Homo sapiens: one gene and its partner. The protein of the gene in region 1 interacts with the protein of each later gene in a biochemical or structural test. Each region holds a gene or a part of one and is shown in the gene's direction. Other genes may lie near its edges.

The links. The genes of interacting proteins can lie anywhere in the genome.
Region 2: the proteins of CYTIP (region 1) and LDB3 interact in a test that uses a peptide from one of them, tested with the Homo sapiens proteins (one large-scale study listed by IntAct).

Annotation. Positions count from the first base shown.
Region 1 is NC_000002.12:157,434,050-157,437,702, reverse strand, and holds part of CYTIP (cytohesin-interacting protein), read left to right. Parts: intron 1-2,955; coding exon 2,956-3,005; intron 3,006-3,278; coding exon 3,279-3,333; intron 3,334-3,653. UniProt on the Homo sapiens protein: By its binding to cytohesin-1 (CYTH1), it modifies activation of ARFs by CYTH1 and its precise function may be to sequester CYTH1 in the cytoplasm.
Region 2 is NC_000010.11:86,674,910-86,678,562, forward strand, and holds part of LDB3 (LIM domain-binding protein 3), read left to right. Parts: intron 1-3,653. UniProt on the Homo sapiens protein: May function as an adapter in striated muscle to couple protein kinase C-mediated signaling via its LIM domains to the cytoskeleton.

The DNA of each region.
Region 1 (3,653 bases):
TTTTGAGATGGAGTCTCACTCTGTCGCCAGGCTGGAGTGCAATGGCATGATCTCAGCTCACTGCAACCTCCGCCGCCCGGGTTGAAGCGATTCTTCCAACTCAGCTTCCCTAGTATCTGGGATTACAGGCACCTGCCATCATGCCTGGCTAATTTTTGTATTTTTGTAGAGACGGGGTTTTACCATGTTGGCCAGGCTGATCTTGAACTCCTGAGCTCAGTTGATCCACCCTCCTTGGCCTCCCAAAGTGCTGGGATTACAGGTGTGAGCCACCATGCCCAGTCTTGTATAGCTTCCTTTGAGGAACGTCTGTTCAGATCATTTGCCCATTTTTAAATTTTTTTTTTTCTGTTGAGGTATTTTAGTTCATTATATATTCTGGATATATAAATGAGTAGTTTGCAAATATTTCCTTCCATTCCACAGGTAGTCTTTTCACTCTGTTAATTGTTTGCTGTGCAGAATCTTTTTAGTTTAATATAACCCCATTAGTTTATTTTTGCTTTTGTTGCCTGTTTTTTGAAGGTCTTATTCATAAAATTTTTTCCCAATCCAATATGCTAAAGCCTTTCCCCTATGTTTTATTCCAGTAGTTTTATTGTCTCAGGTTTTACATGAAGGTTTTGATCCATTTACTTATTTTCAGTTGATTTCTGTATAGAGTGAGAGGTATGGTCTAGTTTCTTTCTTCTGCATATGGATATACAGTTGTCTGTTTTCTTTCATTTTTAAATCTTGCTACATATTTAAGATTTTTAAATTTTACTTTATGTATTTTAGTGATTATCCTTGAGTTTTTCCTATGATATTGAATTTAATAAAGGACAATGTTGAAGACTATCTTTACATATTTCTCCTGAACGTGAATATTTAATGTGGCTCTTCAACCATCTCAGTTGCTTCCATTTTCGTTTAGTAGTTTATTTATTTTTATCTATTTCTCCATTTTTAAGTTTCCATTCTATTCCAGGCCCTGTGTTGGGCATTGGGGCAGAAAGTAAAACAAATAACATTCCCCAAGAGGTCCAAATCACACAGATGATTATGTACAGATGTGAAGTATTTGATCCAGTATGCATTTCATATAAATATATACATATATGTATACATATATATATAGCTCTCTCTATATGGATATATGAATAATATGATGAATACTGATAGCAAGAGTAATACCTTAAAAATATAAGCCCTTATTTATAGAGGTATAAGAAACTTTTATAAAAAGAATAAAAAAGCCCTAGTTATCATTACGTAATTTGGCTTAAGGGCGGAAAACAAGCAGCTGAAGATAATAAAAATAGATTAAGAAAATATGAGTACAATATAAGGGAGAGACTGAGAATGCTTGGAAATATCAAGTTTGTGGCTCTCTTCTGCAAGGAAGCCCACTAACATAGATGAATAGTCCCTATCCTTGGTAACGGTACATACGAGGTACAAAATCAGGTTACAACAAACCATACCAATCCTTGTAGGCATTCCACAGTTAGTGCTTATAAATTGAAAAGAGATACTTTTTAGCAAGACTAGAGAATCTTTTTGGGTCTGAGCAATTTATTTCAGTCTCCATTGCGATATAAGTGAGTTGAAGCCCAGAACTAACAAAAGAGGAAAATATAATTAATTTACAGCAAATTGGTAAGAAGAGACCACCTCTCCATTACGTTAAGTTTATGGACTGGTGGCTGAATTCTTAACACTGGTCCATTCCAGGAAATTTGTGAAAATGCTGGCATTTGGTACCTGGTAATTCAAAATTCCTACAGTGATGTAGGCTTCACTCCTAATGAATGTCTTAATAAGCATTTCATTTGTGTAACTTGTCACATAAGCATTAATATCTCCTACATATTTTCCCCCTTCTAGTTTTCATCCTTTACTTATTTTATTTTGCTTTGTCTGGACTGACTATGCATTGATCTCTTGATATTTTATGTGTTCATTTATATATGACAACCATTTCAGGTTGACAATTAAAAACCATGGGTTAGCTAGTAGCTTATGTTTTGGGCCCTTGAAGCAACATTTGAGAATAGGGCTAATAAACATTTCCTGAACAAAGAAACAAACCGACCAAAAAAACACAAAAACCTGCTGCAATTTTCCTAAAAAATAAGTTGTCACCTTTTGTTGATGCTGCTTCTGTTTACAGTGGTAGAATGTGTCCTGAAAGCTTATGTTTATATGATCTTTTCCAAAAGTGCAGAGGAATGAAGGTGATATTATTTATACCATTGATACTATTCTGAGGTTTCTTTCCTTTCTTGGCTGGAAATTTCACGTTAGTCTTCCAAAACTATTACAAAAATAAATCATAAGCAGAAATGAGGTTTTGAGTTCCTGGTTTTACCTGAATTGTGTGTGTGAGTTGGTTGTTTAGAGATTATTTTATCCTACTAAAAACAGTAACGTATTGAATTATTATAGTAAACACTGTCATTTCATCATCATCTCCAAAAACTATAAAGTATTTGGGTTTCATATGCCATTCTAAGTATGCTATTTTTCTTTGGATTTCAGTGTGATTACAAATTGCTATGGTTAATCTTTCAGAGGCTGTTTTAAATACAGACCAGAGAGGAAGTTCTCTTTGGAAGCTTTGGAGTTTTGCCACATTATTTTAACTCTTTTGCCACATTGTATTACTATCTAAACCTCTTTCAATCTTTTAACTGGAATGCCTAGAATCCTGTCTCCCTACTCTCCTCTGCTATCACTAGAGAATGTAGAGAATGGAAATGGCTGCCTTTATGCAACAATTTCCCAGGAGCTGGGCCAAAGAAGGTGGTAAAGAACAGGTTGTGTGTGTGTGTGTGTGTGTGTGTGTGTGTGTGTGTGTGTGTGTGTGTGAGAGAGAGAGAGAGAGAGAGAGAGAGAGAGAGAGAGATTTAGAACATTTTACAGTGTATCTTGAAGACCCTGGGATAACTATATGTCTTTTGTGTTTTTCAGCTTGCTTTGACCAGATCAAGTTCTTTAAGTGACTTTTCCTGGTCTCAAAGGTAAAGAGATTGAATTATTTTTTGTCTCTCCCAAAATATTTAGGAACATAGCTCTCCAGACTGTTTTTTCCTCTCTCTTCCTCTCTCTCTCTCTCTCTCTCTACGCACACACACAGACGCACACACACAGACACACACACAGAATCTTACATACTACAATTTACATAAATGTCAGTTATTTTTAATTGTGACAGTTATTTTTAATGATAGATCTGTGCCAAATGTGATACTTTAATTTTCATGCAGTTTCTTTTTTAAACATTTTTATTACAGAAAGCTTGTTACTGTGGAGAAGCAGGATAATGAAACATTTGGATTTGAAATTCAGGTGGGCAATTTTCACATTTTCTAGACTTCCAAGGAAGAAAGTGGCACCGGTAGTGTCATGTTATGTGCAAAGAAAAAATGAAGTTAGGATTAGAGAATGATGGAGCCTATGACTTTTATTCAGTGTGTGGCTGTTTGGGGGTAGTTTTTCAGTGTGTTGAGTACTATTAAGGAAAGAAAACATTGAAGATGATAACAAAACCTCTGCGATATGCTCAGCAGTTTGTGCTTAGTTGCTTCAGTCTTCCCTTAAGTCCCAGACTGATCAGCTAGGTTGGTATCAGCTAGGTCTTAGATAAGAGAGTGAAATACATTTTACAG
Region 2 (3,653 bases), on another chromosome or scaffold:
CATCCGATGGCTCCTGATCATCCATAGGGTCCCTGCCTCCATCCTGCCTGAAGCACCTCCCTAGAGGAGGATATCAGCACCCCCAGCCCCCACCCTGAGGGATGTTGGACCCTACTCAGGGCAGCCAAAGGCCAGGCCAGCTGAGCCCTGACAAGCAGACACAGCTGCAGGGGAGAGGCACTGGGCAGGGGATCCAGCTCAGCCACTTCCCTCTGGTCAGAGGCTTGGCTACTGACCAGACCCCAGGAGGCTGAGCTCTCCCTTGGGAGCAAGCATCCCCCCGGCCCATACCTGAGGATGAGGGAGAGCCAGGCAGGTCTAGGTGAGGGGAAGTGAGGAGACCTGGTGGGGAGGGCTGGTGCCCGCTGACCCATGCCTGTGGGAGAAAGATGTCTCTGAGGCAGCTCCAGAGGGAGGACAGTCAGATAGCCCTGCAGAGGGCCCCTCTGATCTGGCCCCAGCCTCTCTTGGATATCATTCTGTTGCCCTTGCTCATGCTGTCATCATGATCTTCTGGACACAACTCCCATCTTTCCTGTCAGCATCTCCTCTGTGACCGAGGCCACAGCCTTTCTGCGTGGGGTCTGCAATGACCCAGCCCTGCAGGGGGACGACCCCTTCTCTGTAGATGGGCATTTGGGGGTGCCCTGCCGTGAGAGAGCCTTGCTGTGGGGGTGTCCTGCTGTGGGGGAGCCCCATGGGCAGTTCACTAGGACAGAACAGACATTGCAAAATTCGCCCTGGAAAGAAGTATGCTGGTACCTGCAACTTTCTTTGAAATGCCCGGCAAATGAGATGGATTGATGGATGTGGAGGGATGGAGTGTGATAAAGCAAAGCGAGTGAAATGTTATGGTACAGCCATGGTGGCGGGTGTTCAGGTATACACTTTAGAATGTTTTCTACTTTTCCTGCCTAGAAATCTGCAAAAATGTCTATAATAAAATGTTGGGGATCACATAGAGGAGTAGGGAAAGTTGATTTTCTGCAGGACAGGCCTGGCTGGGCAGCTCAACTTGCCCCCAGGAGTCCCCTCTCAGTCTAGAAAACTCTTTTGCTTTCCTTCACTGATGTTGGTTTTTACACTTTGTTCACCTCTACACTCAAGGCAGCAATACACTCCTGTCATTAATAGAGGCTATGGCAATGAGTCTGGGGGTAAGGGCTATGTGTATTTTAAGAAATCTCAAGTAGCTCTAAGATGCCCCTGCGGGGCCTGGAGGGCAAGCTGGACTTTGCAAAGCAGATGCTGTGGCTTCCTGGCAGTCCAGACGTCTGTTTCTATATTGTCCTTTCCTGTCTCTGCAGATTCCAGGGCAGGGGAAGGGGCGCTGTGGGCACAAGGTGGCCAGTATTTTAAGAGGGCACCACAGGCTGGGTGTGGTGGCTCATGTCTGTAATCCCAGCACTTTGGGAGGCTGAGGCAGGCCAATCACTTGAGGTCAGGAGTTGAAGACCAGCCTGGCCAACATGGTAAAACCCCCTTTCTACTAAAAATACAAAAATTAGCCGGGCATGGTGGCATGCGCTTGTGGTCTCAGCTACTGTGGGGAGACTGAGGCAGAAGAATCGCTTGAACCCAGGAGGCGGAGGTTGCAGTGAGCCGAGATGATGCCATTGCACTCCAGCCTGGGCATCAGAGCAAGACCCTGTCTCAAAAAAAAAAAAAAAGAGAAAGAAAAAAAAAAAAGAGGGCACCACAGCCCCTAGGGCTGAAATGGCAGGTTCACAGCAATTGGAGAGGGCTGTCCTGGTCTTGCCGTCATCACCCACGTGGTGTAGGGCAGTGTTTCCGTGACCCGTAATGTGGTCGTGCAGAAACAACTCAGTTCCTGGGCTGCATCTGCAGAGCCCATCTGGGAATGGGCTGGACACTGGTGACTGGTGACTGCAGGGCATCCTGGTTTGGAAGGGGCTTCCCTGTGAGGGGACTGGCAGGAGCTTCCACCCATGTCTGTAAGCCCAGAGCCTGGCCAGAGGCCCACCCAGGCTTGGCACCTGGGGCAAGGGACTGTCCCCAGAGCCTCTCTGGGCTCCTTCTAGGATGGTTCTCGGGCCTTGGCCTGAATCTAGCTTCTGCCAACACTAGGAGCTGGCTTGGTCCTTGGGTTATAGCCAGGAAGGTGACTGGGATGTGCCCAGAGAAGCCCAGAGGACTGGCTGGTGGGCATGTTTGGGAGGCAAAGCCAAGGAACACTTCCAGCCACAGCTTGTAGGGGGTGGGGTCCGGAGCCTCCTCTTTCCTGTGATGTCCCTGAAGGCCAGGCCTGCATGGCACTCCTCATGATGTCATGGGGGTTGGGGACCTCCAACATGGTATGGTGGGAGTCAGGTCATAAAGCCATTCTATGTGATATTAGCAGGGGCCAGCCCATTCCATGTGATGTCACAGAGGGTACAGCCAGAGTCTCTGGCATTCCATGAGGTATCTTTAGGGGTGGGGCTGCTAATGTCACTAGGGGCCAGCCATCAAGCCTTTTTAGGTGACATTATTAGAACCTCTGAAATTTTGCATCTCATGTGATATTACTGTGGGCAGGGCCACCAAAGCATTCAGTGTGCTATTACTGGAGGCCGGGGGTGCAGAATTTGGCATCGTGCATGATGTCCCCAAGAGTGCAGTCTGAGCCACGATGACATCCCAAGTAATGTCCCAGGAGGTGTGGCCTTCCTGAGATTCCATGGGGAATTCCCGGGATGGAGTTGCAGTGGCATTCTGTGTGGTTACACTGAAGATGGGGCCTCCAGACTGTAACATTCTGTGGTATTATCGGGGCTCAGGGTTTGGGAACTGGCCCCCGCACCTGCACCCTGCCTTCTGGAGGTATGACATCAACTACAGAACCCTAAGCCCTGCCCCATTTCCCAGCTGAGTTTGCTCATCCAGGCAGGGTTGTCGGCTACCTCACTCTCTCCACATCTGCCAGGTAGCACAAAGCACCTGGCACTAAGATGCTTTTGAGTGGGTGCATTTATCCTGCCCTTCAGCCTGGCAGTGTCTCTGGGATGCTGCTGTGTCTTAGCTGCTGCATCTCCCTTTTCTCCTGGAGTCTGAAAAGTGCTCCATAGCTTTGCAGGGTGCAGGGGTTATAAGAGGCTAATCAAGGTTACAAATAGCCTGCAGTTTTTTGTTTGTTTGTTTGTTTTTAGACAGAGTCTCGCTCTCACCCAGGCTGGAGTGCAGTGGCATAATCTTAGCTCACTACAACCTCCACCTCCTGGGTTCAATCAAGAGTTCAAGCGATTCTCCTGCTTCAGCCTCCCGAGTAGCTGAGACTACAGGCACATGCCACCATGTCCAGCTAATTTTTTTTGTAATTTTGGTACAGACGGGGTTTCACCATGTTGGCCAGGCTGACCTCAGGTGATCTGCCTGCCTCAGCCTCCCAAAGTGCTGGGATTACAGGCATGAGCCACCACACCTGGCCACCCTTTTTTTTTTTTTTTTTAAGACCGAGTCTCCCTCTGTCACCCAGGCTGGAGTGCAGTGGTGCAATCTCAGCTCACGGCAACCTCTGCCTCCTGGGTTCAAGCAATTCTCCTGCCTCAGCCTCCCAAGTAGCTGGGACTACAGGCGCCCACCACCAGGCATGGCTAATTTTTGTATTTTTAGTAGAGACAGGGTTTCACCATATTGGCCAGGCTGATCTCGAA